Linked DNA regions of Homo sapiens: region 1 is linked to region 2. Evidence: fine-mapped expression QTL. A gene starts in region 2. The other region holds a variant in brackets. All regions are shown on one strand. Distances are between the middles of the regions. Region 1 holds the start of CATIP (ciliogenesis associated TTC17 interacting protein). Region 2 holds the start of TMBIM1 (transmembrane BAX inhibitor motif containing 1).

Region 1 (16,176 bases), 66 kb before region 2:
TGGGAATGTTCTGGGTGCATGGGGTTGGGTCAGCCTGTTTCGGTTCCCCACAGATGAAGAGAACTTGCCAGAGCCTAGGCGACCCTCTGTGATCCTGCCCTGCCCATCTTGCAGTTACTGCGTGTTTTTCTCCTGCCCCTTCATGCTCCAGCCTCAATGGCCTGTTCCCAACATGCCATGCTCACAGCCTTTGCACTTGCTGTTCCTTCTGCCTAGAAGGCTTTTCCCTCAACTCTTCACAAGTCTGACTCCTTATCATTTAGGTCCCAGCTCAACTGAGACCCTAGAGAGGCCTTTCCTGAAGTCCCCACCCTCAACTCTCCATCACTGCAGAAAGTTCTATTGGGTACCACTGCTCTTGACCACAGACATGCATTACACTTTCCTACTTCTGTCCTTTGCTCATGTTATTTGCTTTGCCTGGAATGCTTTACCTCACCTTAACAGAAATCCAACCCCTGTAGAATTTGGCAATATGCTAAAATAAAAGTCTTAAAATTAGTTCAGCAATGTAACTTGTCAGAATGTATCCTTAAGGAAATAACTTGTTGATATATGCAAAGATTTAGCTACAAGGATGTTCAGTGCAACACTGTTTATAATAGCAAAAATAGAGGCTGTGTGCAGTGGCTCATGCCTGTAACCTCAGCACTTTGGGAGGCTGAGGGAGGTGGATTGCTTGAGCACAGGAGTTCAAAAGCAGCCTGGGCAACACAGGGAGACTGGTCTCTGAAAAAAAAAAGAAAAAGGAAATTGAGGCTGGATGCAGTGGCACATGCCTGTGATCCCAGAACTTTGGGGGACCAAGGTGGAAGGGTCAGTTGAGGCCAGGAGTTTGAGACCAGCCTGGGCAACATAGTGAGACCCTCATCTCTTAAAAAAAGAAAAAAAAAATTTAGCCCAGTGTGGTGGTGCATGCCTGCAGTCCCAGCCACTCAGGCTGGGGTGGAAGGATCGCTTGGGCTCAGGAAGTCAAGGCTGCAGTGAGCAGTGATTGTGCCATGGTACTTCAGTCTGGGTGACAGAACAAGAACCAGTCAAAAATAAATAAATAAAGTTCCCTGGAGTTATAAAGACCAGATCAAACAATCTAGAAAAGGGCTTGACAGAGTGAACACTCAACAAACACCAGCTGCTTTTATGCATAGGAGAGTAGAGAGGATATTTGCCAAAACGTTGAGCAGCTGCTTCTAGGTAGAGAGAGTAAAATGATTTCGTTTTCTTCTTTTGGTTTATCTCCCTTTCCCAAGTTTTATCTTATGAACATGTATTTCTTTTGAAATAAGGGAGAGGGACAATAAGAAATATTTTTAAAAAATCCTTCAAGGTTCAACTCAAGTGATGGTCCTCCATGAAGCCTTTTGTCTGTGATTCTCAGGTCCTCCCCCCAGCCCCGCATCCAACCCAGCCTTGTAGGTGTCTGGTCATACCGTCCACTAGAGAGCAAAGCGTCTCTGGAGTCTGCAGCAGCAGGTCTGACGAACGAACAAGGGAAGGAGAGAGCCTGCACCGCCACCACTCCCTCAGGGGAGCTTGCCTAAAGTTTGCTACTGAGCATCCGGACAGAAGCCACTGGCCAGCACTGACGTTCCACGAGGAGCCCAGAGGATGCGACGATCATCTGCCCATTATTTTTACTCTCGGACCCCCCACCTCCGGAGTCTGGGGGTCCCTCTGTGTCAGTGGGAACCGGGAGGAGCTCGAGCCTGAGTGCTAGCTGCGTTTGCGAGATTTCAGGGGGTTTGAGCTAAGCCAGAGGTGGTCCACGTCGGCCCTCCTCCCTCCCCAACCCCCCGCCGCTTGTTATTTTTCTTTGGGCGGTTGGTTGGGCAATTATGCTCTGCGACCGTAAGATCTGAGTGCCAAGGCGCCCGCCCCTCCGTGCTAACCTAGTAAGAGTGTGGGCTTTTTCTTTTTTTTCTTTTCTTTTCTTTTTTTTTTTTTTGAGACGGAGTCTCGCTCTGTCGCCCAGGCTGGAGTGCAATGGCGCCATCTCGGCTCACTGCAACCTCCGCCTCCGGGGTTCAAGCGATCCTCCTGCCTCAGCCTCCTAACTGGGATTACAGGCGCGCGCCACCATGCCCGGCTATTTTTTGTATTTTTAGTAAAGATGGGGTTTCACCGTGTTGGCCAGGCTGGTCTCGATCTCCTGACCTGGTGATCCGCCCGCCTCGGCCTCCCAAAGTGCCGACAATACAGGTTTAAGCCACCGCGCCCGGCCGAGTGTGGGCTTTCAAGTCCAACGTTGAGGTTCAAATTCTGCCTCCCCACCTGCCAACTCCAAAAGTTAAACTTTCTGTGCCTCTGTGTTCTTATCTGTAGAATGGGGATAATGATGAAAACAGCATCTAGGAGGAAAGGCTGAAATCTACTCGAGGTACGACGGTAACGGTTCCTATTTCTAGCCCGAGACACTAGACGCTAGCCAGGGACGCTGTCGACGGGCGCTGCAGAGAAGCGGGAGGGCCCCATTTATTCCCCCAAAACCGCAGCCCGGAAAGCGCACCCGCCCCGGCGCGTCCCGCCCGCGTCCCAGCCCGACCCCTGGTTTCCTGCCCTGTCCGGGCCTGGGCCCCGCTTAGGCCGCCCCCGAGCGGGCGTCTCCCTCCGGCTCCAGGGAGCGGAAAGGGTTGGGCCGGTGGGAGGAGCCCAAGGCCGGTGACGACGGACGCCACGGGTCGAAGGGGCCGAAGAACTCGGCGGCGAAGGTGACCACGTCCTCCGGCTGGCGCAGCAGCAGGAAGAGCAGGAAGTCGGAGATGAGCGCGTGGGCTTCGGGGTGCTGCCGCAGATAGCTGGCGTGGCCGAGCCGGAGCTCCTCCTGGCAGGGGACAGAGCCCGAGCCTCAGCCGGACGGGACCCCCGCGCCCCAGGAGCCCCCAGCCGCTCGCTCCAAGGAGAGCTAAGGGGCGCTGGAGCCTTCTAGCCCCTACGGGTGTGCATTTCAATCAGGTGCAGAGATCAGTAATGAATTTAAGGCCCATGGGGGAATGGGAACCCCAGGCTGGTGGAGCCTCCCCTCACCTTCCGGTCCAGGAACTTCGAATAGAGCTCCATATCCTCCTCCCATACCAGGGGCTTCTTCTCAAACACTGGGCGTGGCTCAATCTCATCTAGGTGGGGAACAAGGAAGGCTGGGCGTCCCTACCCCGGAACCTTCCTTGGATACACAGCGAGATCCCGAGAACACCCAAACAGAAGGCTCAGGTGAAACCCCAGGATTCTGCCCACATGGGCAGAGTTGCAGGAAGGGACTTCCAGTAGGAAAGATCCTCCTCTTATTGCTTGGGGTCAGGGGCTGGAGGGCAGATGTTCTCCAGCTGATTCCAGGCTCCTGTCCCGTTTACAGCACACTGGGTCCAGCCCCCTGCATCCTGGAAGGCCCAGGTTTCCCCACTCCCCTTAACTCTCCCTGCCTGCACAAGGCCTGGGCTTCACTCACCCTCTTCCCTCAAGATGGGCATCTTGGTGATGATGCAGCACCCTGGGGAGCCCACCTGTATTCTCTTGGCCAGGTGCCTGGAGTGCAACACAACATGTGAGAGTGAGAATCTTCCCAGACCGCCTGCTATGGACTGAATTGTCTCTCTAACCCCCAGTGTGGTGGTATTTGGAGGTAGGGGCTTTGGGGAGGTCATTACGTTTACATGCAGTCATAAGGGTGGGGCCCGAATCAGATAGGATTAGTGCCCTTATGAGAAAAGGGTGATGCCAGAGAGCTTTCTCTTCACTCATGCACGGAAGAAAGGCCATGTGAGGACACATTGAGAAGGCACTTGTCTGCAAGCTAGGAAGACAGCCCTCACCAGAAACCAACCCTGATGGCACCATGATCTTGGACTTCCTGCCTTCCAGCAAATATATTTCTCTTGAAGCCACCCAGCCTGTGGTGTTTTGTTATGGCAGCCTAAGCAGACTCCTACATGACAGTGCCCCTTGAGAGACCTGTCCCGGGCCTCTTTACTTCTGCCTCCCTCTCTTGTTTATTAAGTTCCTGGGTGGTGTTCATTTCTGGATCTCCAAATAACGCACAGGGCTTGGCAAGTATTAGGCCCCCTGTTTAAAAAAAACAAAAAGGATCTTTAGAGGTACAGCACTCGAAAATCATGGAGCCTCTTGGCCAGGCACGGTGGCTCACGCCTGTAATCCTAGCACTTTGGGAGGCTGAGATGGGTGGATCACTTGAGGTCAGGAGTTTGAGACCAGCCTGGCCAACATAGTGAAACGCCGTCTCTACTAAAAATACAAAAAACTAGCCAGACGTGGTGGTGGGCGCCTGTAATCCCAGCTATTTTGGTGGCTGTGGCATGAGAATCACTTGAACCTGGGAGGTGGAGGTTGTAGTGAGCCAAGATTGCATCCCTGTACTCCAGTCTGGGTAACAGAGCGAGACTGTCTCAAAAAGAGAAAGAGGCCTGTCGCAGTGGCTCACACTTGTAGTGGCTCACGCCTGTTATCCCAGCACTTTAGGAGGCCAAGATGGGCAGATCACTTCAGGTCAGGTGTTTGAGACCAGCCTGGCCAACATGGTGAAAGCCTGTTTCTACTAAAAATACAAAAATTAGCCAGGCGTGGTGGCAGGCACCTGTAGTCCCGGCTACTTGGGAGGCTGAAGCAAGGGAATCACTTGAACCTGGGAGGCGGAGGTTGCAGTTAGCCAAGATTATGCCACACATTCCAGTCTAGGTGACAGAGCGAGACTCTGTCAAGAAAGAGACAGAGAGAGAGAAAGAGAGAAAGAGGAAGGAAGGAAGGAGAAAGAAAGAAAAGAAAAATTATGGAATCTCCTGCTATGCGGCATTCAAAATAAAAAGGTTGGCCTGGAGCTGTGGTGCATACCTGTAGTCCCAGCTACTAGGAAGGCTGAAGCAGGTGGATTGCTTGAGCCCAGGAGTTGGAGGCTGCAGTGGGCTATGATCGCACCAAAACCGAAAACATACTAAGTTATGAGATAAAGCCAACAATGTTTTGATTACCTTTTCCCCAGTGTAGTGATTATGTGAATATCTATTCTGAAATTTTAAGAAATAAACTCGACTGGAGTCTGTCTCAAAAAAACAAAACAAAACAAAAAAACAGAAAGAAACTCTTTCTTCCACCTGAATTTTCTTTTTCTTTCTTTTTTTTTTTTGAGACGGAGTCTTGCTGTCACCCAGGCTGGAGTGCAGTGGCGCGATCTCGGCTCACTGCAAGCTCTGCCTCCTGGGTTCACGCCATCCTCCTGCCTCAGCCTCCAGAGTAGCTGGGACTACAGGCGCCCACGACCACACTTGGCTAATTTTTTGTATTTTTAGTAGAGATGGGGTTTCACCGTGTCAGCCAGGATGGTCTCAATTTCCTGACCTCATGATCCGCCCGCCTCAGCCTCCCAAAGTGCTGGGATTACAGGTGTGAGCCACCACGCCCAGCCCTGAATTTTCTTATGATTTGGAGCCAGTGCTTTGCTGGAGACTGCACGGCAGCCTGCCACAGGCAATTCTTCCAGCACAGTGATTTCATCAAGTGTGCAGTCATTCAGACCTTGGTGTTTTTCAGTATTATCCCTTACACAGTGGTGGCTGCACTAGCTACACCCCAGGCCTGTGGTGTGCAGTGAGAAGGTTTGGGAGGCACTGTGAGGGTTAAGAGGACGAGCAAATAAATGAAGAAAGAGTGAATGATATGGATAAAGCGGAGGGACACTCCTATCTCAATGCCAGTTCTTCCTGGTGCTATCCCCAGAAGCAGCCGGTCTCCTTGAGCACCTACAAGCTCAGCACCACCCCTCTGGGCCCACCATCAGCAGCTCACCCATCGGAGAGCAGGTAGTACTGGCAGGACATGGGGATGCCCTCCTCCGCGTGGACAGTCTGCTCCACGATGAAGACTTCAGCCTGCTGATGGTCTACCTGGATGGTCTGGAAGCCCAGGTTTTGCTGGCAACAGCCAAAATTGGGGGGTGGGAGGTAAGGTGGATGCCCGCCAAGGGCTCCCCATCATCTTACCTTAGCCTTTTCTCCATCTCATAACAACCTCAAGACATTTAATATTGCATCTCCAAACCTCCAAGCTGAGTTGGCGACCCCTCATAGGGAGCTAGCTCCAGGTTGCCCTTGCCCTGACCCCTCCCATGTCATCTCGCTGACCAGGTGCTTCTAGTTGGCAAATTCTGTTACAGGGATGAGAAGCGGTATGCGGGGGGGTGTGGGAGCGGAGAGGTAGGATGAGCTACTAGGGCCAGTGGGTGGAGGTAAAGTGAGGCTCAGAGGTGTGAGACCAGACAGATTTGTGGCCACCTCAGACCTGTGCTGTTGCTGGCAGGCTGTCCCTGTTGTGATTAAAACTTAAACCCCTGTTGTAGCTGCAGCTATGGAGAAAAAAGTGCTAATGTTAAACACATGTTTCAAAGAACACGGAGGGGAATGGATTGTGCTTGTTCATGTCAAATGCATTGCTGCTTGGTGTGTTTTGATAGACAAGCCTGGAATGTAATTTACAAAGATGGTCAAAGAAACACAAATCAGCCCCCAAAGTGTCTCACTGGAAATTGTGTGTTCAGTGGCATGGCTTTAAAATCACTGATTGCAGGAAGTCCTAGGCATGCTGATTATGAAATTTTAGTTAAAAACAAAAAA[C/G]AAAACAAAAACGGAACACCCTTTGGGGTTAAGAAATAATAAAGGAATATTTCAGTAAAGTTGGACATGTTACACTTCCTAAAGTTAAAAAATGATTTATTTTTATTTATTTATTTTTTTGAGACAGAGTCTCCCTCTGTTGCCCAGGCTGGAGTGCAGTTGTGCGATCTCAGCTCACTGCAACCTCCGCCTCCTGGGTTCAAGTGATGCTTCTCCTGCCTCAGCCTCCCGAGTAGCTGGGATTACAGGCACTTGCCACCACACGCAGCTAATAATTTTTGTATTTGTAGTAGAGACAGGGTTTCACCATGTTGGCCAGGCTGATCTTGACCTCCTAACTTCAAGTGATCTGCCCACCTTGGCCTCCCAAAGTGCTGGGATTACAGGCATGAATCACTGCGCCTGGCCAAAATGACGTTTTTTTTTTTTTGTTTTTTTTTTTTGAGACAGAGTCTCGCTCTGTCACCCAGGCGGGAGTGCAGTGGCGCGATCTCGGCTCACTGCAAGCTCTGCCTCCCGGGTTCACGCCATTCTCCTGCCTCAGCGTCCTGAGTAGCTGGGACTACAGGCGCCTGCCACCACGCCCCGCTGATTTTTTTTTTTTGTATTTTTAGTAGAGGCGGGGTTTCACCATGTTAGCCAGGATGGTCTAGATCTCCTGACCTTGTGATCGGCCCGCCTTGGCCTCCCAAAGTGCTGGGATTACAGGCGTGAGCCACCACACCTGGCCCAAAATGATGTATTTTTTAAATCAGCCCTGCACTATATTTATTTTTCCTGGACTGACTTCTGTGCGGAAGGGTTGCTTCTCTGAACTGTTCCCACTTCTCAGTCACTCTCAATTCATCTGCCCCACACTCCCAGACAAACATGCTTTCCTGCCCTTGAAAGCCCCATTCCCACCTGTGCTGTTTTCTCCCCACCTGCCTCCCTTTTCTACTCCACAGCTGTTCCCCATCTCAGTGCTTTTCACGCCTTTTCTAGTTCGCTCCCAAGCCAAGTCCCCTGCCCAAGGGGACCCCTTACATAGGTCAAATAGCAGAGTTTGCCCTCGGTGTCCAAGGTCAGGAAGCGGGCATTGCTGGGCACCATCCGCCGCCAGGCCATCACCCTGAGCAGCACCAGGTTGGCAGCCTCTGAGATGAAGCCCTTGATTGAGCTCCAGGGGAAAGAAGTCACTCCAGTCTTCACTTCCTGTTCAGAACTGATCTGGGTCAGGGTCCTGGAACCAGGAAGGGGCAGGGGACAGGAGGGTGGGCAAGCCAGGTGTTGGGCATACGGTTTTGTTTTTTTTTGAGACAGAGTTTCGCTTTTTGTCACCCAGGCTGGAGTGCAATGGCGTGGTCTCAGCTCACTGCAACCTCCGCCTCCTTGGTTCAAGCGATCTCCTGCCTCAGCCTTTCAAGTAGCAGGGATTACAGGCTACCATGCCTGGCTAAATTTTGTAATTTTAGTAGAGACCGGATTTCACCATGTTGGCCAGGCTAGTCTTGAACTCCTGACCTGAGGTGATAGGCCCCCTCTGCCTCCCAAAGTGTTGGGATTACAGGCGTGAGCCTTTTTTTTTTTTTTTTTTGAGACAGGGTCTTGCTCTGTTGCCCAGACTGGAGTGCAGTGGTGCGATCTCAGCTCACTGCAACCTCCAGCTCCCAGGTTCAAGCGACTTTCCTGCCTCAGCCTCCTGAGTAGCTGGGATTACAGGCTCACGACACTACGCCCAGCTAATTTTTGTATTTTTATTAGAGGGGATTTCACCATATTGGCCAGGCTGGTCTCCACTCCTGACCTCAAGTGATCCGCCCGCCTTGGCCTCCCAAAGTGCTGAAATTACAGGCGTGAGTCACCACACGCCTGGCCTTCAGCCGGTCATATGGTTTTTAATGAATGAATCCTTGTCTTTTTTTTTTTTCCTTTTTCTGGAGAACGGGGTCTCGCTATATTGCCCAGGCAAGTCTCGAACTCCTAGGCTCAAGCTATCCTCCTGCCTCTTGCTTCTGAGAGCTGGGATTACAGGCGTGAGCCACCGCGCCCAGCCTAATGAATGAATCGTTAGTCTGGACTCCTGGCTTCATCTAATCTGGTCCCCGCTCAGAGTTCTGAAGAGGACATTGTGAAAGAAAAATAAATCTTGGGACCCCAAATCACTAAGCCAAAGGGAAGTCAAGCTGGGAACTGCCTCAGGCAAAGCTGCCTCCCATTTTATTCCTAAACAAGGTAGCTACTAAGAGAAAAAAAAGCTATATAACTCCCTCACTATTTGCCCACAAGGAAATTCCTTGTGGACAAAGGACAGACAGAACTCAAAGTCATCCCTCTGCTCACGTGAGATAAATGCATATCTGATGGCTTTCTCTGCTCTATTGTTTCACTAAGCCAGAGTAAGGCATAAGTGACTACTTTTCTAACCCCCATAGCATGTAAATTGTGTATTCAGTGAAAGGCTAATCGGAAACTTAAAAGCATGTCTCTTATCTACCTATGACTTGGAAGCCCCCTCCCTGCCTCGAGTTGTCCTGCCTTTTCCAATGAACCAATGTACATCTTTTTTTTTTTTTGAGACGGAGTCTTGCTCTGTCGCCCAGGCTGGAGTGCAGTGGCGTGATCTCAGCTTAGTGCAAGCTCCACTTCCCGGGTTCACGCCGTTCTCCTGCCTCACCCTCCCGAGTAGCTGGGACTACAGGCGCCTGCCACCACGCCTGGCTAATTTTTTGTATTTTTACGTCTGGTGAACCAGTGTACATCTTACACGTGTTGATTGATGTTTCGTGTCTCCTTAAAATGTATAAAACCAAGCTGTAGGCTGGGCGTGGTGGCTCACGCCTGTAATCCCAGCACTTTGGGAGGCTGAGGCGGGCGGATCACCTGAGGTCGGGAGTTTGAGACCAGCCTGGCCAACAGGGATGAAACTCCCTCTCTACTAAAAATACAGAATTAGCCGGGCGTGGTGGTGCATGCCCATAATCCCAGCTACTCGGGAGGCTGAGGCAGGAGAATCACTTGAACCCGGGAGGTGGCGGTTGCAGTGAGCCGAGATCACGTCATTGCACTCCAGCCTCTGCAACAAATGTGAAACTCTGTCTCAAAAAAAAAAAAAAAAAACAAGCTGTGCCCCAACCACTTTGGGCCCATTTCCTCAGGACCTCCTGAGGCTGTGTCATGTGCGCGTCCTTAACCTTGGCAAAATAAACTCTCTAAATTGATCTGGACCTGTCTCAGATATTCTGGGTTCACAGTGTGTAGTGCAACTCCCATCTGGCTCTCATCCTTACCTCACCCTCCTTGATACTTCTGGTCACAGCCAGCTGATCATCCTGCTTCAGCAAACTCATCTTCCGTTCCATGGGGAGGATGAGGAACTGAGGGCCAGAGCATGCGGGGGAGGATCAGGGACTCCCTGGGTCCCCCAGAGGTCACCTGACCCTTCTCCATTAATGAGAAAACTGAGGTTTAAAGATTGTGACTTAAAAAAAAAGCAGCCGGGCCGGGCACAGTGGCTCACGCCTGTAATCCTAGCACTGTGGGAGGCCGAGGTGGGCGGATCACGAGGTCAGGAGATTGAGACCACCCTGGCTAACACGGTGAAACCCCGTCTCTACTAAAAATACAAAAATTAGCTGGGTGTGGTGGCACATGCCTGTAGTCTCAGCTACTTGGGAGGCTGAGGCAGAAGAATTGCTTGAACCCGGAGGCGGAGGTTGCAGTGAGCCGAGATCGCACCACTACACTCCAGCCTGGGCAACAGGCTGTTTTTGAGACTCCATCTCAAAAACAAACAAACAAACAAACAAAAAACCAAGCAGCAGGGCCAGGTGTTGTGGCTCATGCCTGTAATCCCAGCACTTTGGGAGGCCCAGGCGGGCAGATCACTTGAGGTCAGGAGTTCAAGACCAGCCTGGCCAACATGGCAAAACCCCATCTCTATTAAAGATACAAAAATTAACCAGGTGTGGTGGTGCATGTCTGTAATTCCCAGCTACTTGGGAGGCTGAGACAGGAGAATTGCTTGAACCCGGAAGGTGAAGGTTGCAGTGAGCTAGATTGCACCACTGCATTCCAGCCTGGGTGATAAGAGCAAGACTCTGTCTCAAAAATAATAATAATAATAAAATAAAAAAAAAAAAGCAGCAGCAACAAAAACCAAAAAACACCTTTCATACACAGTGAAGCTGAAGAATAGCAGTCGTGTTATGATGCAATATAAAGTTCAAAAACAGTGCACTTCAGAACACTGGTTTTAAAAGATGGGGGTGGGCCAGGTGCAGGGACAGCAGGTTGCCACTGATAAGTTCTCCTGATACCCAAACTCTGAACCCAGCCCACACCAGCCCTCCTCCAGCCTGAGAGCCCAGTGCCTCCCTGGAGGCCTGGTGGGCTGGCCTTTCCCAGAGCCTAGCCTTCCCTGGGGGCCTGTTTCACCTGGCCTCCAAGTCTCCCAGCTCTGTGCCCCTCACACCCAGCCCCAGCCACTTAATTAACTTGTGGAATGTGAACATGACCTGTTTACACACTGGAAACTACTCAAGTCTAAAAACCTTCCCACAGAAACCAGAAACCATCCCCAACATTTTTTTTTTTTTTTTTTTTTTTGAGACAGAGTCTCGCTCTGTTGCCCAGGCTGGAGTGCAGTGGTGTGATCCTGGCTTACTGCGACCTTCGCCTCCTGGGTTCAAGCAATTCTCCTGTCTCAGCCTCCCGTGTAGCTGGGATTACAGGTGCCCACCACCATGCCTGGATAATTTTCTTTTTGTATTTTTAGTAGAGGTAGGGTTTCACCATCTTGGCCAGGCTGGTCTTGAACTCCTGACCTCATGATCCACCTGCCTCGGCATCCCAAAGTGTTGGGATTACAGGTGTGAGCCACTGCGCCCGGCTAATTTTGTGTTTTTAGTAGAGACAGGGTTTCTCCATGTTGGTCAGGCTGGTCTTCAACTCCCGACCTCAGGTGATCCGCCTGCCTCAGCCTCCCAAATTGCTGGGATTACAGGCGTGAGCCACCGTGCCCAACCTACATCTTTTTTCTTCTTTTTTCTTTTTTTTTTTTTTTTGAGACAGGGTCTCATTCTGTCACCCAGGCTGGAGTACAGTGGCACGCACATTGCTCACTGCAGTCTTGACCTCCTGGGCTCCGCTGAACCTTCCACCTCAGCCTCCCAAGTAGCTGGGACTACAGACACACATTACCACACCCAGCTACTTTTTGTATTTTTTGTACAAAATTTATAAACATTTTTGGTGGGTTTTGCCATGTTGCCCAGGCTCAAACTCCTGGGCTCAAGGGATCCTCCCACTTTGGCCTCCCAAAGTGCTGGGATTATAGGCTTGAGCCATTGTGCCTGGCCCACCCTCATTGTTTTTTAATTTTTTTCTTGAGACGGAGTCTTGCTCTGTCACCCAGGCTGGAGTGCAGTGGCGCGATCTCGGCTCACGGCAATCTCTGCCTCCTGGGTTCAAGCGATTCTCCTGCCTCAGCCTTCTGAGTAGCTGGGACTACAGGCGTGCACCACCATGCCTGGCTAATTTTTGTACAGATGAGGTTTCGCTATGTTGGCCAGGCTGGTCTCGAACTCCTGACCTCAGGGTGATCCGCCCACCTCTGCCTCCCAAAGTGCTGGGATTACAGGTGTGAACCACTGTGCCCAGCCCACCCCCGTGTTTTAAAATCAGTTTTCTGAAGTGCGTTGCTTTTGAGCTTTACATTGCATCATAACACGATTGCTATTCTTCAGCTTCACTGTGTATGTAATAGGTTTTTTGGTTTGTTGTTGCTGCTGTTTTTTAAGTCAAAATCTGTCTTCTCTCCCCTGGATTGGGTCAAGGCTGGGGCCCTGGGAAGTACCTTGATGAAGTCTTGGCTGTGCTGTTCCATGAGCTCCAGCTTCTCTGAGAGATAGCCTGGGGTGCAGGGACACAGGCATTGACGTCACAGGAGATGTGGGTCAGAGGCTGAAGGAAGGGAAGGTGGTGGCGCAGCTGGAGGACTAGGTGTAATACGGTCCCAGAAAAACTACAGGATGGGTAAGATGTGCCCTCATCCCGAGTCCATGAGGAACTCGCTCATCCCTCTCCCACCCCGTGCCTTGTCCTGGTCCAAGGCAAAGCCAAGGGCTTGGTCCTGAAAAAAGATTCTAGGAATTGGTGGAGGGGAGGGTTGGAGGAAGGGGAGAGTGACGGGCATCAGGCAGTAGGAACGCTACCCAGGAGGGAATTTCCGCAGAGCATTTTGTCCAAGAAGCCTCGGCTAGAGGCATGCACGAAGAGGCAGTATGTCAGCATGCCGAGTTTTTCCTGGTATTTCCCTCTCTGCACCTCAATGGTCAGCTCTCCCTGAGGCTCCCCGGTGTCTGAGACCATGGCCAGCGTCTCAGAGAAGAACAGCATCTGTAGCTCCTCCTTGTCTGGGGTGAGGGGCCCGTGGGAACAGATAAAGCCCCTGCTCCTGGGCCCCAATCCAATCCTCTGACCCCATGACCACCAGTGTCCCCACAGTCCCCACCTGCCTCCTCATCCCACAGCCTTCCTCACTGGCACGGACAGGTGAAGACTCCTGCCCCATGTCCCCATGTCCCCGGGGGGCCTTCCCTTGAAGAATGTCAACAAACAGGCCTCAGGCCTTTTCTGAGTCCCAGGAGAATCAAGGAAGAGAGAGAGAGAGAGAGAGAGAGAGAGAGACTGGACTTTCTTCCCTCCTCTCCAGACTTGCACCCCTCCCGCACCCCCAACCCCGACACTGTCTGAGCTCACGGAGGGAGCTGAGGAAGTCGATGGCTTCAGCATTGGCCTCTGGGAGTGGCAGACACTCCGGACCCGAGGGCTGGTGGTCCTTAGCTCTGGAGCCTACAGAGGGATGAGAGGCTAAGATGGCAGACCCTGGGGAGAAGGGCAGGGGTCAGGGAGGCAAGGCAGGGTACCTCAGTCCTGGCCCCAGCACCCAAGAACAGAATCCTCTAAGACTACCCCGAGGGTGGATTGGGAAGAAAGAAGAGGATCCCCGCCTCCAGCCCCAGCAGTCCTCTTCCCACCTGTGGAGTAAACCTTGGAGGACATGCTGTGGGCCTGCCTCTACCCGGTCTGTGTCCAGCTGTCTCCATGGCAACCAGAGCTGGACAGTGCCTCTTAAAGGGCCATCAACCCACTTTACTACACCCAGACCTTGGAGGGAACTGACACTGCAGGTTTGGGGCTCAGCACAAGCTTGAGGTGTTGTCCAGCAGAGGGAGCATTTGATATATATTTTTTTCTTTTTTGAGACGCAATCTCGCTCTGTCACCCAGGCTGGAGTGCAGTGGCGCATTCTCATCTCACTGCAACCTCTGCCTCCCGGGTTCAAGCAATTCTTCTTGAGGTCTCAGCCTCCCGAGTAGCTGGGACTACAGGCGCACACCACCGCGCCCAGCTAATTTTTGTATTTTTAGTAGAGATGGGGTTTCACCATATTGGCCAGGCTGGTCTTGAATTCCTGAGCTCGTGATCCTCCTGCCTCAGCCTCCCAGAGTGCTGGGATTACAGGTGTGAGCCACCGCGCCTGGCCCACATTTGATATTCTTAAGAGGCAGAGTGAAGAAATGGGTCATTAGAATGACCTTAGAAGAGGCCAGGTGTGGTGGCTCACACCTGTAATCCCAGCACTTTGGGAGTCCCAGGCAGGTGGATCACTTGAGGCCAGGAGTTTGAGATCCAGCCTGGCCAACATGGTGAAACCCATCTCTACTAAAAATACAAAAATTACCAGGGAGTGGTGGCACATGCCTGTAATCTGTCTCAAAAAAAAAAAAATGACCTTAGAAGATATGAACGAAAGTCAGACAGAGTCTCAAATGCACACTATCCAATTAGCTGCTACATGAATATCTCTGCAAGTTACAGTTCTAATACATGTAACAATAATGATAACAACAATGACAACATAGCAAACTCTTTGACTGGACTTATTCCTGGTGAGGCGCTTTTTTTTTTTTTTTTAGAGAGTCTCACTCTGTTGCCAGTCTGGAGTGCAGTGGCGCCATCTTGGCTCACTGCAACCTCTGCCTCCTGGGTTCAAGTGATTCTCCTACCTCAGCCTCCTGAGTAGCTGGAACTACAGGAGTGTGCCACCATGCCCAGCTAATTTTTGTATTTTTATTTTTATTATTTTTATTTATTTATTTGTTTGTTTTAATTATTTTTGAGAAAGAGTCTCACTCTGTCACCCAGGCTAGAATGCAGTGGCATGATCTCAGCTGCAACCTCCTCCTGCCAGGTTCAAGTGATTCTCCTGCCTCAGTCTCCCAAGTAGCTGGGACTACAGGCACCCGCCACCACACCTGGCTAATTTTTGTATTTTTAGTAGAGATGGGGTTTCACCATGTTGGCCAGGCTGGTCTTGAACTCCTGAGCTCAAGTGATCCACCTGTAGAGTCCAGCCCTACGGGGCTTAGCGGGTGTTCTCCCTGTGTGTGGAGACGAGAGATTGTAATAAATAAAGACACAAGACAAAGAGACAAAGAGAAAACAGCTGGGCCCGGGAGACCACTACCATCAAGACATGGAGACTGGTAGTGGCCCAGAACGGCTGGGCGCGCTGATATTTATTGCACACAAGACAAGGGGGCACGGTAAGGAGGGCGAGTCTTCTAAGTGATTGACAAGGTGAAGCAAGTCACATGATCACAGGACAGGGGGCCCTTCCCTCTTAGGTAGCCGAAGCAGAGAGAGAGACGGCAGCATACATCAGCGTTTTCTTCTATGCACTTATAAGAAGGATCAAAGACTTTAGGACTTTCACTATTTCTTCTACCGCCATCTACTACAAACTTCAAAGAGGAACCAGGAGTACGGCAGGAACATGAAAGTGGACAAGGAGCGTGACCTTTGGAGCACAGCACCACAGGGAGGGGTTTAGGCCTCCGGATGGCTGCGGGCAGGCCTGGATAATATCCAACCTTCCACAAGAAGCTGGTGGAGCGGAGTGTTCCCTGACTCCTCCAAGGAAAGGTGACTCCCTTTCGCGGTCTGCTAAGTAATGGGCGTCTTCCCAAACACTGGCACTACCGCTTGACCAAGGAGCCCTCAAGTGGTCCTTATGGGGGCGTGACAGAGGGCTCACCTCTTGCCTTCTAGGTCACTTCTCACAATGTCACTTCAGCACCTGACCCTATACCCGCCGGTTATTCCTAGGTTATATTAGTAATGCAACAAAGAGTAATATTAAAAGCTAATGATTAATAATGTTTATAATAATGATTGATAATTATCCATGATCATCTCTATATCTACTTTGTATTATGACTATTCTTATTCTAACTATTTTCTTTATTATACTGAAACCGTCTGTGCCTTCAGTCTCTTGCCTCGGCACCTGGGTAATCCTCTGCCCACACTTCCTTGGTCTTAGACCTGCGGGCCTCCGCCTGGTCAGCCAGGAGCTTCTTGTAGGCCTTGTCTGCTTTCAGCTTGTGGATGTGTTCCAGGATAATCCGCTTGTTTTTGAACACATTCCCCTTCACCTTCAGGTACAGGCTGTGATACATGTGGCGATCAATCTTCTTAGATTCACGGTATCTTCTGAGTAGCCAGCACAGAATCC
Region 2 (16,176 bases):
TTCAATTATGGTTTTATTTGACCCCCAATTCCATGCTCTTTCCACTGATCCTCTGTAACCAGCCTGGGTAGAAAACATGTGTCAGTGTCTGCTGGGAAACAGATGACACAGGCAAACTGGGAAAGCTGAGGAGAGCTTGAGAGAAGTTAAGTTTTAGTGCTCTGCAAGGCTACCGGCAGGTGCTGGAAACAGTTCTCCAGGCTAGTGACACTGTCGCCACCCCTGGGCCTGAAGGGTCAGGAAGGGAGCTGTTATAAAACATAAAGACAGGTTGGGTGCGGTGGCTCATGCCTGTAATCCCAGCACTTTGGGAGGCCGAGGCGGGTGGATGACCTGAGGTTAGGAGTTCCAGACCAGCCTGGTCAACATGGTGAAACCCTGTCTCTACTAAAAATACAAAAAATCAGGCATGGTGGCAGGCATCTGTAATCCCAGCTACTTGGGAGGCTGAGGCAGGAGAATCGCTTGAACTGGGAGGTTGCAGTGAGCTGAGACCACGCCACTGCACTCCAGCCTGGGCAACAAGAGCGAAACTCTGTCTCAAAAACAAAAAACAAAGACAGAGCTGTGTGGACAGGCCCAACTGATAGGGGCTGTGACCACTGGTTGAGGGATAAGCCAGTCTGGGGTGAGCCTTGAGGGAGGGAGAAGGAGACAAACCCTCCACCTCTGCTGCCATCTCCTCCTGGAGAGCTCCACTGCCAAACTCAGCTGCAGCTGGAGGACCAAGAGCCCACTGAGGTGTCCATAGGACCAGCTCCAAGCAGGGTGGAGAAGACGGAGGGGGATGTGGAGAGCAAACGGAAACCAGCCAAATGAAACCAAAGAAGTGCGGGTCTGGCCGGGCGTGGTGGCTCACACCTGTAATCCCAGCACTTTGGGAGGCTGAGGCAGGTGGATCATGAGGTCAGGAGTTCAAGACTAGCCTGGCCAAGATGGTGAAACCCCATCTCTACTAAAAATACAAAAATTAGCTGGGCATGGTGGTGGGCACCTGTAATCCCAGCTACTCAGGAGGCTGAGGCAGAGAATCGCTTGAACCCAGGAGGCAGAGGTTGCAGTGAGCCGAGATCATGCCACTGCATTCCAGCCTGGGCAACAGAGCAAGACTCTGCTCAAAAAAAAAAAAAAAAAAAAAGAAGTGCAGGTCTGGGATGGGGGTCGTGGGGTATTGACACCTCAGGGTGGGGGCTGGTGCCACCACCTTTCATCTTGTAGCCAAGGTGGCTCCTCAAGGCCTTCCTGCTCTCGGGCTCCATTCCCTCAACCCATTCACCGCTCAGAGCCAGGGTGATTCTCCTAAAATACCACCCAGATCATGTCCCATGTCCCAGCCCTGCTCAAAATCACTCAATGGCTTCCTTTGTAAACCAAAAATAAAATTCAATGCCCCCTCACCTCAGCCATCTGAATGGACTCCCTCCTCTGCCAGGGCATTCCAAAGTTAACCTGAAAGACTGGTTCAGGGCTGGGCTGGTGGCTCACACCTGTAATCCCAAGGATTACACTTTTGGGAGGCCAAGGTGGGCAGATCACTGAGGCCAGGAGTTCAAGACCATCCTGGCCAACATGGTGAAAACCTGTCTCTACTAAAAATACAAACAAATTAGCTGGGCATGGTGGTGGGCACCTGTAATCCCAGCTACTTGGGAGGCTGAGGCAGAAGAATCACTTGAACCTGGCAGGCAGAAGTTGCAGTGAGCTAAGATGGCACAACTGCACTCCAGCCTGGGGAACAGAGTGAGACTCCATAAAACAAACAAACAAACAAACGAACAAACAGAAAAAAAACCTCCAGGCCTTTAGGTAACTCTTTTAATCAATTGCCAATCAGAAAATTTTTAAATCTACCTATAACCTGGAAGCTCCCTTCAACACACACATACATTCTGCGCCCCTGTCCCCCCGCCCTGACTACCTTGGGCCACGTGTTCTCAGGGTCTCCTGAGGGCTGTGTCAAGGGCCATAGTCGCTCATATTTGGTTCAGAATAAATTTCTTCAAATATTTTACAGAGTTTGAATGTTTTCATTGATATCTTTAGGCTGAAATTTGAAGTCCTTAAAGAGGCCCTGAGACTCTGTAGACCTGGCCCCTGCCACCTCCCCAGTCTCCTCTTGGGCCATGCCCCAGTGCCCACCACTCTCCAGCCACACCACTCTCCTGGAAGTTTCTGGAACATGCCAAGCTCTTTCAGCTTCAGGGGTGTCTCCACACCTTCACATAGCTTGATCCTTCTGCTTAGAAGGGTCACAGCACCATTGTCCACCACCCCCCACGGCCCATCCCCTCTGTAGCTACTCTTTCATGCCACCTTCTGCCAACATAAGAGGTGCCTGGGTGCCACTCTTTTGTTTTTGTTTTTTGAGATGCAGTCTCACTCTGTTGCTCAGGCTGGAGTGCAGTGGCGCTATCTCAGCTCACTGCAACCTCTGCCTCCTGGGTTCAAGTGATTCTCCTGCCTCAGCCTCCCGAGTAGCTGGGACTACATGTGCGCACCACCATGCCTGGCTAATTTTTTGTATTTTTAGTAGAGACAGGTTTCACCGTGTTAGCCAGGATGGTCTCGATCTCCTGACCTGGTGATCTGCCTGCCTCGGCCTCCCAAAGTGCTGGGATTACAGGCGTGAGCCACAGCTCCCTGCCTTGGGTGCCACTCTTTTAGGGCACTGAGTCAGCTTTCCTTAAGTGCATGTATTACAGTTTGTAAAGATACCTTTGCTTATGAGATGAGTTGCTAATATCTGTCCTGCCTTCCCTACTGGACTGTAAACTCCAAGAAAGCGGGGGCTGTATTTTATTTACTTCTGTATCCCCACAGGTCTGGCACACAGTTGGCCCCTCATAAATGCTTGTTAAATAAATCTTAATGGTATTGGGGTTGAGTCCTGGCCCCTTTCTTTTCTCCCGTTTTTGTTTGTTTGTTTGAGACAGATGGTAGCTCAGGCTGTTGCCCAGGCTGGAGTGGCATAATCACAGCTCACTGCAGCCCTGACCCTCCTGGGGTCAAGCCAACCTCCCACCTCATCCTTCCAAGTAGCTGGGACTACAGGCACGCACAACCATGCCCAGCTAATGTTTTAATTTTTTTAAAGAGATGGGTCTCACTATGTTGCACAGGCTGGTTTCGAACTCCTGGGCTCAAGCCATGCTTCTGCCTGGGCCTGGCTAAAATGCAGAATTACAGGTGTGAGCCATTGCGTCGGCCAAGGCTCCCTTTTTCTAGCCAAACAGTGCTAGTCAGACTCTGCCCCCTAGTGGTCATGTCTGGGAACTGATTGTGGCTTGTTCCAACCGCTTCCTAGATGTCAGTTTTTGACTTGTTAAAAGTAAATGGAACGCAGCAGAAAGTACTGAGTGCAGGCCCTGGGCTAGGCATCTGGCCAAGATGAATTACGATCTAGACCCTGACCCCCAGAATTCCCCCTTAAGTCAATGACCAGCGCTATAGATCTGTGCTGTTTCATATGGTAGCCACTAGCCACTTGCCACTGAGCACATAAAATGTGGTTAGTGCAACTATAAAACTGAATTTTTAATTTTATGTAATTTTAATTCATTTAAACTTAAATCTAAACATTGGCTGCTCTGTCTATGGAGTAGCCATTCTTTATTCCTCTACTTTCTTAATAAACTTGCTTTCATTTTACTCTAAAAATAAAACAATAATAAAATAAACCTTGATGCTTATTTCAGTTATTGGAAAACACTCAAGTATGTACATTTTACAAACACTTTTCAGATTTGATCTAAATACAGATCCTATATTTCTGATGAAAAAGTAACATCCTAATTGAGATATGCTGTGTCAAATACATACCAGATTTTGAAGACTTAGTATTTAAAAATCCCATTAAAAATTCACCTATGGCCAGGCGTGGTGGTGCATGCCTGTAATCCCAGCACTTTGGGAGGCAGAGGTGGGTGGATCACTTGAGGTCAGGAGTTCGAGACCAGCCTGACCAACATGGTGAAAACACATCTCTACTAAAAATACAAAATTGGCTGGGCGTGGTGGGGCATGCCTGTAATCCCAGCTACCTGGGAGGCTGAGGCAGGAGAATCTCTTGAACCCAGGAGACGGAGGTTGCAGTGAGCTGAGATCGCACCACTGCACTCCAGCCTGGGCAACAGAGCGAGACTCCATCTCAAAAAAAAAAAAGAAAAGAAAAGAAAAGAAAAAAATGTAGACTCTCAACCTACTGAAGCAGAATCTGCATTTTAACATGAACCCCAAGCGATCTATTTGCACATTAAAGTTTGAGAAGCAGTCACCTATTAGACATCCAAGTGGTGATATAGGCAGCAATTCTCTGATTGCTTGCTCAGAGACATAGGAAGCAAAGTCGAGGCTGAGAGTGAGGCTGCAGAGGAGGTGTGGGAGTTCAGAAGGGACTGTAGAAAGTGTGGAGTAATTGCCTAGGATGGGTGTGTTAGTATGAATGGACAAGTTAGTGTGCATGAACTTAAAGCGAGATCAGTCAGGACCGTTGCATGTTTTTACCCTCACTTTTGGCTATGTGGGTGCAGAGTTGAGATTTTGCTGCTGAGAACCATAAGGTAGAGTTGAGGCTGCATGCAAAGGAGTAATTATAATATTGGAATCCAAGCTGGTCAAGGAGGAAAGTGAGGATGTGAGAGATAAGAAAGAGGTGGTGGTCAGGCGCGGTGGCTCACTCCAGTAATCCCAGCACATTGGGAGGCTGAGGCAGGTGGATCACTTGAGCCCAGGAGTTTGAGACCAGCCTAGGCAACATATGGAGACCCCATCTTTACAAAAAATTACAAAAATTAGCCGGGCGCGGTGGCTCACGCCTGTAATCCCAGCACTTTGGGAGGCTGAGGCGGGCGGATCACCTGAGGTCAGGAGTTCGAGACCAGCCTGACCAACATGGAGAAACCCCATCTCTACTAAAAATACAAAATTAGCCTGGCGTGGTGGTACGTGCCTGTAATCCCAGCTACTTGGGAGGCTGAGGCAGGAGAATCACTTGAAACTGGGAGGTGGAGGTTGTAGTGAGCTGAGATCATGGCACCATTGCACTCCAGACTGGGCAACAAGAGCAAAACTCTGTCTCAAAAAAAAAAAAAAATTACAAAAATTAGCCAGGTGCAGTGGTGTGTGCCTGTGGTCCCAGCTACTTGGGAGGCTGAGGTGGGAGGATGGCTTGAGCCCAGGGGGCTGAGGCTGCAGAGAGCCATGACTGCTTCGCTGCACTCCAGCCTGGGTGAGAGCGAAACCCTGTCTCAAAAATAAATGAATAAACAAATAGGTCGGGTGCGGTGGCTCACGCCTGTAATCCCAGCACTCTGGGAGGCTGAGGCAGGTGGATCACCTGAGGTCAGGAGTTCGAGACCAGCCTGGCCAACGTGGTGAAACCTCATCTCTACTAAAAATACAAAAATTAGCTGGGCCTGGTGGCGGGTGCCTGTAATCCTAGCTACTCAGGAGACTGAGGCAGGAGAATCGTTTAAACCTCGGACGCGGAGGTTGCAGTGAGCCAAGATCGCGCCATTGCACTGCCATTGCACTCTAGGCTGGGTGACAAAAGCGAAACTCAGTCTCAAAATAAATAAATAAAATAAAATAAAATAAATAAATAAAATAAAGGAACAGGTGGTAAGATGAATAGATTGTTGATCCTGATATGGTCACAGAATTGTCAAATCACGGTCACAGAGCTGGAAAAATAGATGGTGGTCAGAGTGTGGGGTGCCTGAAATTGAGATTATGGAGGGGGTGCAGTTATTGGTAAGGAGAGGTTCTCAGGCAGCTAATATCGTGGGTTGGGAATAAGAGGAAATCGCTGTTGGCTTTTCTTGGGGAGTAGAGTTGTTTAGACAAAAGCAAGTATCTATGAGGAGGAGCTTCCTAGGTGGGGGGCAAGAGAGTGGGAGAATGAAGCCCAAGATGGACGAGGAGAGGGGCTTGAAAGCTGAGAATCCCCCGGTATTCTGGCTGGCAGAGGTGGCAGAGGTCCATGGCGAGAGGGCAGGGTGTAAGGGCACAGCTGGAGCCTGGCCCTGCTGAGCTCCCAGCTCGGGCAAGTTCATCCCTCCAGGCCCTGCTTAGTGTGAAAGGAGGTTGTGTTCATCACTGGGAGAATCACTGGGCTTCTATCTCACAAACAACAATAACAATGAACATTTTAACTCTGCCCCAAGCATTTGACAACTGCTATTTTTCATTCTTACAACTACCCTATATTATTACCACCCTTTTTATAGATAAGGTGCCAAGGCTCACAGCAGTTAAGTAATATGCCTAAGGTCACAAAGCCACCAAAGACATTTGAACTTGGATTCAAACCCAGGACTGTCTATCACCAAAGCTTGCTGGTGTGGCTGGCGATTCACCTGGGGAGCGTTTGTTTATGCTTCCACTGAAGATTCTGATTCACAGGTCTGGAAAGAAGTATCCCCAAGGGAACGTGCATGTTTTCACAAGCAGCTCAGGTGACTCTGAGGGTCAGGGAAGAATGGAAAGCATTTCGCTGGCCCTGCCTGCAGCATGGTGGATGCCAGGCTGGTTCCGTGGCCTGGCTTCCTCATGGTGCCACCCACTTCCAGTTACAGCAGTTTCAGTCACCATCAACATCCGCCATGTGCCTTTCTCACTGCCTTTCACCTAGATGACCTCAACTGAGGAAGGCGCCAGAAGTCACAGGAGGTAGAGAAATGCAGTATGATTTCTCTCTCTCTTTTTTTTTTTTTTTGAGATGGAGTCTCCCTCTGTTGCCCAGGCTGGAGTGCAGTGGCGTGATCTCGGCTCACTGCAAGCTCCGCCTCCCGGGTTCATGCCATTCTCCTGCCTCAGCCTCCTGAGTAGCTGGGACCACAGGCGCCTGCCATCACGTCCAGCTAATTTTTCTATTTTTAGTAGAGACGGGGTTTCACTATGTTAGCCAGGATGGTCTCGATCTCCTGACCTTGTGATCTGCCCGCCTCGGCCTCTCAAAGTGCTGGGATTACAAGCGTGAGCCACTGTGATTTCTTTTCTTCTCTCTTTTTTTTTTTTTTTTTTTTTTTGAGACGGAGTCTTTTTCTGTTGCCCAGGCTGGAGAGCAGTGGCATGATCTCGGCTCACTGCAACCTCTGTCTCCCAGGTTCAAGCGATTCTCCTGCCTCAGCCTCCGGTGTAGCTGGGACTACAGGCATGCGCCACCACACTTGGCTAATTGTTTGTATTTTTAGTAGAGATGGGGTTTCACTATATGTTAGCCAGGCCGGTCTCTAACTCCTGACCTCAGGTGATCCACCCCCTGACCTCCCACAGTGCTGGGATTACAGGCATGAACCACTGTGACCAGCCACAGTGTGATTTCTAAGTAGAGAGATGGGCCCCCGGCCTCACAGTCCTTTAGTGCCAAAGCTGGAACAAAACTTCACTTCTGAGACATCCAAATCCACCATTCTTTCCACTCTCTATTTCCTTAGGAAAGTGTTAAATAATGTTTATGAATAATAAGGCCAATTTTAAGGGGGAGGAGCCCCCATACCCCACCCCTACCTTATCTATCCCCCACACATCTATCATTCAAGCCTGAGAGGCTCCCTCCATCCCACTTTGGAACATTGGCATTCAATTCAACAGATGCTGGGTCAGGGCCGTGCCCAGGCCTAGGGGTGAATGAGACATTGTCTCTGCCCTCCAGTGGGGAGAAACAGGCACTTTCACCTCAGGCTGGGTTCAATGCCTCAATTCAGTAAATACGTCCTCTGAAAACAAGCAACTTCGGGCGGCGCGGTAGCTCTTGCCTGTAATCCCAGCACTTTGGGAGGCCAAGGCAGGTGGATGACCTGAGGCCAGGAGTTCAAGACCAGCCTGGCCAACGTGGCAAAACCCTGTTTCTACTAAAAATACAAAAATTAGCTGGGCATTGTGGTGGGCGCCTGTAATCTCAGCTACTCAGGAGGCCAAGCAGGAGAATCGCTTGAACCCAGGAGGCGGAGGTTGCAGGGAGCCGAGATCATGCTACTGCACCCCAGCCGTGGTGACAGAGTGAGACTCCATCTCAAAAAGAAAGAAAGAAAGAAAGAAAAAGAAAAACAGAAAAAAGGCAACTTCTTTCAGAAAGTTAGTGATCAATGCATGGGTAGAGTAACACATTAAATGCTAGGTAACCAGGCAGCTATGAGAAGGGTTTGGAGGACCAATTAGTGGAGTCCTGGGGCTGGGCTGGAGGGTGGCAACAGAGAAAGTTCTCTGGATCCACCGCTCCAATTAAGTTTTTCCTGCCCATGTCCTTCAGGTTCCACCTGGGCCCACCCCTTCCAGGCTGCCACCACCCCCTCCCACCAATCACTAAGCTTTAGCTAGTCCTAAAATACCTAAAATAACATCCAGTCCTAAAATAAACATCAGTCTAATCCCTTTCACTCCTCCACCCCTCTTCCTGCAGCCATGGACTTGACTCCACTTTCCTCCTAGGTAGTGTTGCTGGAAAAATACAACCAACCAGTTAAATGTGAATTTCAGATAAGCAATGAGTACTTTTTTTTAGTACAAGTATTTCCAAATATTATATGGGGCAGTGGGATATGCTTATATGAAAAAATATTGTTTGGCCGGGCGCAGCGGCTCATGCCTGTAGTCCCAGCACTTTGGGAGGGTGAGGCGGATGGATTGCTTGAGCTCATGAGTTCAAGACCAGCCTGGGCAACATGGCAAAACCCTGTCTCCACAGAAAATACAAAAATTAGCCGGGCGTGGTGGTGCTCATGTCTGTAGTCCCAGCTACTTGAGAGGCTGAGGTGGGAGGATGGCTTGAGCCTGGGAGGTGGAGGTTGCCGCGAGCCAAGATCGCACTACTGTACTCCAGCCTGGGAGTGCAGAGCCAGACCTTGTCTTGAAAAAAAAAAAAAAAAAGGTTTGTTGTTTATCTGAAGCTCAAACTGGTTGCCTTGCATCTTTATTTGCTAAAGCTGGAACCCTACCCCAGGGGCACCACCAGAGCCTCCCCAACCCTCCCAAACTCCCTCTAGGTGGTTATTTTCTGGCTCCCCATTGCTTTCAGGGTAAAATCTCAATTTCTGGCCCCCTGCCTCCTTGGCCAGCCCTATTTCCTACCCCTTCTACCCCACTGCACCCTCCACCCCCCATCCTAGCTTGCTGGGGCAACTGGCCCTAAGTCCCTTGCCCTCTGCCTGGAGAACCTTCTCCCCTCCTCCGAATAGGCTGGTTCCTAACACCTCCTAACACTCTACTCAGGTGTCACCTCCTCTGAACTCCTTTCCCGAACCCCCACCCCATTCCCCACACTGGGTTAGGAGCTTTCTCTGGGATCTGGAGGAACCAAGTGAATATTTCTTTATCTGCCAGCACTTGTCAAACTGTCAACATTGTAATAATCTGTCATTTTACTGGCTCCCTTAGACTGTGAGTTTCTTGAGAGCAGGGGCTGTGTTCTTTCAGCCTTCTCATTTCTAGAACCGGAAATTCCTGTCTGGTTGGCAGACAATAAAAGCTTACTTAATAATTTTGCAGATAAGGCCCAAGAGAAAAAAACATCATTTATCGAATGCCTATTGCCAGCGAAGCACTGCTGCTCTGGGCCAGGCGCTTCAGGTGTTATTTTTGACCCTATAGTCAGAAAAAGGGCTCTGGAGAAAAAGCACGCAGCAAGGCTTGTGTGGGCTTGCCTCGTGTGCCCCATGTCCCACTCCCCCAGTCGGGCAGATGTGAGTCGCTGGTGATTGCTGGTTGGAAATGGAATCTCCTTGGATATTAACCATCCTGGTGGTTCTAGAAAGTGGAGGGTGTTTTCTGGAGAAGGGGCCTGCTATGGTGGGAATGTTGTTGTCCCCACTCCATTCATTTGTTGAAACTTAATCCTCAATGTTATAGTATTAAAAGGTGAGGCCTTTAGGAAGTGATTAGGTCATGAAGGCGGAACCCTCTGGAATGGAATTCATGCTCTTAGAAAAGAAGCTGGTGGCCAGGTGCAGTGGCTCACGCCTATAATCCCAGCACTTTGGGAGGTGGAGGAGGGCAAATTGCTTGAGCCCAGGAGTTCAAGACCAGCGTGGGCAACATAGTGAGACCCTGTCTCTACAAAAAATACAAAAATTAGCCAGGTGTGGTGGTGCATGTGTGTAGTCCCAGCTACTCAGGAGGCTGAGTTGGAAGGATTGCTTGTACATGGGAGGTCAAGGCTGCAGTGAGCTGCAATTGTGCCATTGCACAGAGTGAGATTCCATCTCAAAAAAAAGGAAGGCTGGTGGGGGGGCGGTGTCTGTTTGTTCCTTCCTTGGCCATATGAGGACTCAGACGATATCTGTGAAGCAGAGGGAGCCTTCATCAGACACCTAACCTGCTGGTGCCTTGATGTTGCGTTTCCCACCCTCCAGAACTGTGAGCAATACATTTCTGCTGTTTCTAAATTACCCACTCTAAGGTATTTTTGTTGTAGCAGCCCAGATGGACTAAGACAGCACAAGTGTAGAGAGCATGAAAAAATGTCAGGGATCTGGACAGATTCCATGGGCCATGCATTTCACCTAGGGCGCTACTCCTTGAGCAAGGGGGAGACAGACACTGAGCAGAACTGTACTTGCTCTGGTGAGATCACACCTTGGGTGGGGACTTCCTAAAATGAGGTTCTTGGCCTGTAGGAACTGGAAGTACACTGAAGGGTTGGGGTGTCTGGGGAGCTAGCCCACCATAACGGCCACTAGTCCCCCTAAGTAACTCCTACTTAAACTATATTTACAGAAATAAACATACATAGTGTGTGTATGGGGGGCAGTTTTTAAAAATCTGTCTTTTTTTTTTTTTTTTTTTTTTAAATCTCTGTTTTGGGGCTGGACGTGGTGGCTCATGTCTGTAATCCTAGCACTTTGGGAGGCCAAAGTGGGCTGACTGCTTTGAGCTCAGGGGTTTGAGACCAGCCTATGCAACAACGTGAAAACCCATCTCTACAAAACAAACAAACCAAACAAAACAAACAAGCAAACAAACAAAATTAGCTGGGTGTAGTGGCACACACTTGTAATCCCAGCTACTCAGGAGGCTGAGGCCGGAGAATCACTTGAAACCAGGAGGAGGATGCAGTGAGCCGAGATGGCGCCACTGCACTCCAGCCTGGGTGACAGAGCGAGACCCTGTCTGGAAAAAAAAAAAAAAAAAAAAAAGGACATTCAGTGGTGGTGTGGTGCTGACCTATAGCTATTAACATGAGATAAGCACTTTAAACAGAGTTGGTCAACTACTGGCAGCCTTGGTGTCATGGAAAGAACTTGGACTTTGGAACCACAGAAACTCAGGCAAGGCTCGGTAATGTTTCTCTTTTTAAATTGAGACAAGGTCTCTCTATGTTGCCTAGGCTGGGTCTCCAACTCCTGGGCTCAAGCCATCCTCTGGCCTTGGCCTCCCAAAAGTGCTAGGATCGCAGGTGTGAGTCACCATGCCCAGGCTCCAGTAATATTTCAGAACTTCCTCAAAACTGTTTCCTCCTTTGCTACTGCATTCTTCACTGAGATGAGGGTTAAGACCTACCTAACAGTAGTAATCTACATCTCAATGTAGGACTTCTGAATTCTGACTTGAGGAAAGCACCTGCTTTCCTGGTTGAGTAATTATAAACAGAGATTCTAGGTTTGCATGTTTGCAGTTTTAAACTCGAAAAGTGCATTTATCTCAAAAACACAGAATTATCAAGGATTTTAATTACTGATTTATTTGTAATGTAAAAATGGGAAACAAACGGCCTCCAGTAGGAAATTAATTTAATCCGCATAGCCATGCAATGGAATACTTCACGGCATTAAGATTGTGCTTTTGAAGACTATTTAGTGAGAAGAAAAATGTTCATCATAAAACAGTAAAAAGAAGGGCAGTAAACAAAACACCATACAATATACCCCACTGTAGAAAAACAAAATACATACAGAAATGTAATAGCCAAAGAAGGACCCAAAGCGAACGCTTCCCCCTGGGAACTAGGAGGGGTGGAGAGAAATTACTTTCTTCCCTGCATTTCTGTGTCTTTTCTAGCTTCCTATCAGTATCATGTATTGCCTTTAAATCCGAAAATACCCCTGTGTTATTAGTGAGGCGTCGTCGGGGCTCTGAGAGGCGCGCGCGCCCGGGACAGACCCCTGCGCCCCCTGGCGGCGCCCTGAGGCCCCGCCCCACGAGGCCGGCGCGACGGGGCGGGGCGCGGAGCCCCAGCCGAGCCTAGCCCTGCCCGGCCCCGGAGGACTTGCAACACTCCGAGGCCAGGAACGCTCCGTCTGGAACGGCGCAGGCAAGCCAGGGGGCCGGGGCCGGCGCCGTTGGGGACTGTGGGCGGTGGGGACTGGTCCAGGGCTGGGGCGGCCATGCGCCGGGGCGCCTAAACTTTTCGGAGCGCGCTCCCGGCTTGCCCGCTCCTGGGCCCAAGGAGCCCGTTCCAGATGGGGATCTCCCCTCCTGGCCCTTGGCGTTTCGCTCTCCCTGGGCGCGCGGGTGGGCGGCCGGGTCTGTGGCACCTGGTTAGCCTTGGGAGCCCAGCAGCGTGTTGTGGGCACTGGTGAGCGGAGCCAGGGTCTGGGGGTGTCCTCGTGTTCCCTCTTTCGGGCACGAGTGGCCTCTCTGTCGCAGGGCCTATCCACCATGCCAGCCCGAGTGGCCAGCTGTGTGGGATGAGGGCTTTCATGGCCCTCAGCTGGTGAGAAGAGGGAAGAGGGAGGGGAGACAGCCAGGGCCTGGCACGGACCCCAGGTTGCCCCCACACGCGCTGAGGCCAGTCTCGGTGTAGACAGGTGAATATTTAAGGGGTGGGGAAGGGGGGGTCCTAGCTTGCAGCTGGGGCAGAAGCCAATGAGCAGCTCAAGTGTTTGGCATGGGGAAGTGGCCACCTCTATCACCATGACTTTGCCCTCTGCCAGTCCCACTTCCAGCCACTGTTTCCCGGCTGGGTTCACAGAACTACAGGGGAGTAACATCCTCCTCGTGACTTCTTTGGGTTAGAGTGAAAACAAAACAGAGAAACGGGAAAAGGGAAAGCAAGTGGAGAGACTGGGGCAGGAGCCAGGGACCAGTGGGAGGAAGCAGAGGGAGGCTGCTGGGAGGCCAGGCCCTGGCCTTGTGGGGTCGGCACCAATTCTTGTCCTATGGGGTCTCCATCTCCTCTCCCTCCTCTGTGGCCTCTACGTGGTACCCAGGAGTTTGGGGTTCTACCTGAGCACCCTGGACATGGGATAAGTAGGCCTGGGAACGCAGGTCAGAGCCAGATGTCATGGAAGGGCCCTCAGGTGTCCAGTTCTCTGGGCTCTGAAATATTCATCTCATTAGTGAGCTTTGGTTTCCAAGCTGGCGACTTTGGGCTGGCCAGTGGTGGCAGGGGAGCCAGGTGCCTCCTGGGGCTGCTTTATTGGCGCAAAGGGGGAGCCATACTTCCTTCTCACCTGCCTCCTCTCTCTGTCTCTCCAGTCATGAGGATCCAGAGAACCAGTTTATAGCTTAAATGGAAGAGGCAGGACCACAGTGTCAGGGGCCCTGTCTTTCTGTGCTATGACCTCAAGGCCTCACTTGTAAAAATGAGCCCTTCAGAGAGGTAATGATGGGTTATCCTGTAAGTGTTGGGAGAGCCTCATGTCATGAGCTGGGGTAATAGCCACCTGGGCTCAGCCTCCTCCCCTGGGAATGGGTGCCTCAGCCAGACGCTGTCTACCTCAGAGCACCTCCAACCGCAGGCCTCACCCTGGGCCTTTCAGAAAAAGCAGAAGCCACAGAGAAGGGAAACACACATACTTGTGTGTTTTCAGAGGGCTGAACTGGGACGACCAGAGAGTGGAAGCTCATACAATTCTCTGGGAAGAAGTTCTGCTAACAACATGTCTGATCATGACATGGGCCTTCTGGACCTATTCTGTTGGGGACACAGTGGAAGGGATGACCTTGACAGAATCTTCCAACCCTAAGATTCTGGGATTCTAGGCCAAAACCTGGGTCTTGTTTTGAAGTAGAAATGATATCCAGAAGTCGACAGGCTACAGTGGCAGGTACCTCCATTGGTGGGAAGGGAGATATTAATGAGCTCCCACTTTTGTCTGTAATGATTTGTGCTTTGCCCCGTTGCACAGAGGTGAGGTTAGGGGTGCCCGTTTCCTGGTTCTGTGGTAGCTGGATATGTCCCCCGGCCCTTGGCAGTAAATCCCACGGTGGGATAGCAGCTGTGTGGAATGGGGGAAGGGGAGGACCCTCGCCAGAGATCCTGGCACTGGGCTGACCCCCTGAGAGTGAGAGGGCATGTCTAGTACTTCATGTGACTGCTCTGAGGGGCAGCTGGGTGTACGCACAGAGGTTATAAGAGACGAGGAGTTAGGATATGAATGATTCTCAGGGTTGGGTGTCTGTAATACAAAGGTGGCCTGGGTCAGCATCCCACAGGGTGTTAATAGGTTTGCCTCGATAAAAGTGGCTCAGGCTTAAGGGAGTTTGAAGGAACACTGGGTTAAACAAAGCTGAACAGGGTTGCTTACTGCAGGACTTCTCAGGGGCAGAATATGCCATTGTGAATTTCCAAGAAGGGGGTGTGGATTGTTTCTCAAGAGTCATCTGTTTCCAGCACTCATTCATTAACGTCTCCTGGGGCGTGTTCTTTAGAACAGTCTGGGAAATGCCTGGCTAGGTGATTCTGTTTCTCCACTGTGGCTCCCATAAACAAGTCCCTACTCCTTTCCCCCACGTGGGCTGATTTAGGGATAAAAGGAGGCCAGGGGAGGTCATTTGCCTGGATTCCTGCAGCTAGTTCATGAACCCAGGTCAGTGGACTTCCTGCCTCCTACTCTTTCTTTCCTAGAGTGTTATATACTGTTTAGCTCGGGCGTAACTGATCACCCAGGAAGAGCTGGCCGTAGGGTCCAGACAGCATTATGGGGACAGTTTGGGAGGGTGTGGACAGCCCCATACTGAGAACATGCCATGTACTTCTGCCTCTGAAGATGTCCTTGGAAACAGTTGCACATCAGTAGTGACCCCCTGGTGTAGGTTCTTGGGGAGCCATGCCATTCTGCCCTGAAGCCTCCTGTTAGGCTGTTCATTCAGAATCAGAAACTGGCAGAGTGGACTTTGATCTTTCAGTTTTTTTTTTTTTTTTTTTTTCTGTCGCCCAGGCTGGAGTGCAGTGGCATGGTCTCGGCTCACTGCAACCTACATCTCCTGGGTTCAAGTGATTCTCCTGCCTCAGCCTCCCGAGAAGCTGGGATTATAGGCATGTGCCACCATGCCCGGCTAATTTTTGTATTTTTAGTAGAGACGAGGTTTCACCATGTTGGCCAGGCTGGTCTCGAACACCTGACCTCAAGTGATCCGCCTGGCTCGGCCTCCCAAAGTGCTGGGATTACAGGCATGAGCCACCGCGCCTGGCCATTCTTTCATTTGAGGGGAATTGTCTTACTGATGTTAAAACTGGGTCTAGAGATGTGGCTCTCACAGTGGAGTGAGTCCCAAAGCCAGGACAAGAACTTCAGGTCCCCACCTCCTAGCCCAGGACCCAGGCTTCAGATCAACTTTCCGCAGGGGAAAGAAATAATGGTAGCAACAACAGCTTGCTCAGCTCCTTTCTATCTATCGTTTTGATCTTTACTGCCTTGGCCCCACCCTGGTGCTGCCTATTCACGCAGGTGCGTGCTACAGATGCCTCAGGGGCTTCTACTCCTGCCTGATATAAAAGCAAAGAGGCTGAATTTTAAATCAGGTGTGAGATCTATGCTTAAACTCATCTCTGCTGTTTGCCTGCTGTGGGACCCTAGATCTCTTTTTTTCTGAATTTCAGTTATCTCATCTATAGAGTGGGATGAGGGTAAGAATACCTCACAGCACTGTTGCAAGGATCAGATGTGCCTTAGTTACTATAGGTTGAGTGTCTCTTATCCAAAATGGGACCATTTTGACAATTTCCTTCCCTCCCTTTTCTTTTACCCACCCCAACTCCCTTCCACCCCCAAGAAAACACTTTACTCTCCTACTCGAGCATATAGTCACGATAGCCATGGGGGCAGACATCTACAGTGGCAGAAGCACATGGATTTTGGATTTTTTCGGATTTGGGGCTATGTATATTATACTTACTGGTTGAGCGTCCCTAATCTGAAAATCCGAAATCAGAAATGCTCCAGTGAGCATTCCTTTGAGTGTCATCTTGGTGCTCAAAATGTTTTAGATTGTGGAGCATTTTGGATTTTGGAAATG

The links. PIP is the estimated chance that this variant, and not a neighbour inherited with it, causes the effect.
Region 1: its variant is fine-mapped to the expression of TMBIM1 in whole blood (TOPMed, PIP above 0.99).

The regions. Positions count from the first base shown.
Region 1 is chr2:218,354,367-218,370,542 of GRCh38, reverse strand. It overlaps CATIP (ciliogenesis associated TTC17 interacting protein), which reads right to left and starts at 13,686. Exons shown (of 10, transcript NM_198559.2): 1 at 13,634-13,686; 2 at 13,356-13,448; 3 at 12,809-13,009; 4 at 12,451-12,506; 5 at 9,884-9,970; 6 at 7,641-7,808; 7 at 5,791-5,915; 8 at 3,443-3,519; 9 at 3,025-3,113; 10 at 2,449-2,821. The coding sequence starts at 13,658. The coding sequence ends at 2,579. It overlaps CATIP-AS1 (CATIP antisense RNA 1), which reads left to right and starts at 2,641. Exons shown (of 3, transcript NR_110573.1): 1 at 2,641-2,952; 2 at 3,516-3,616; 3 at 3,745-3,878. It overlaps CATIP-AS2 (CATIP antisense RNA 2), which reads left to right and starts at 12,577. Exons shown (of 4, transcript NR_125777.1): 1 at 12,577-12,629. It also overlaps the pseudogene RPL19P5. RefSeq lists a silencer at 2,350-2,659 and an enhancer at 13,280-13,791. The variant C/G (reference allele first, on the strand shown) is at 6,615.
Region 2 is chr2:218,288,537-218,304,712 of GRCh38, reverse strand. TMBIM1 (transmembrane BAX inhibitor motif containing 1) reads left to right here and starts at 12,210. Exons shown (of 12, transcript NM_022152.6): 1 at 12,210-12,247. All of the region lies in intron 2 of PNKD (PNKD metallo-beta-lactamase domain containing), which reads right to left. RefSeq lists enhancers at 10,686-11,532, 11,715-12,677, 12,678-13,642, 14,562-15,061 and a silencer at 11,953-12,432.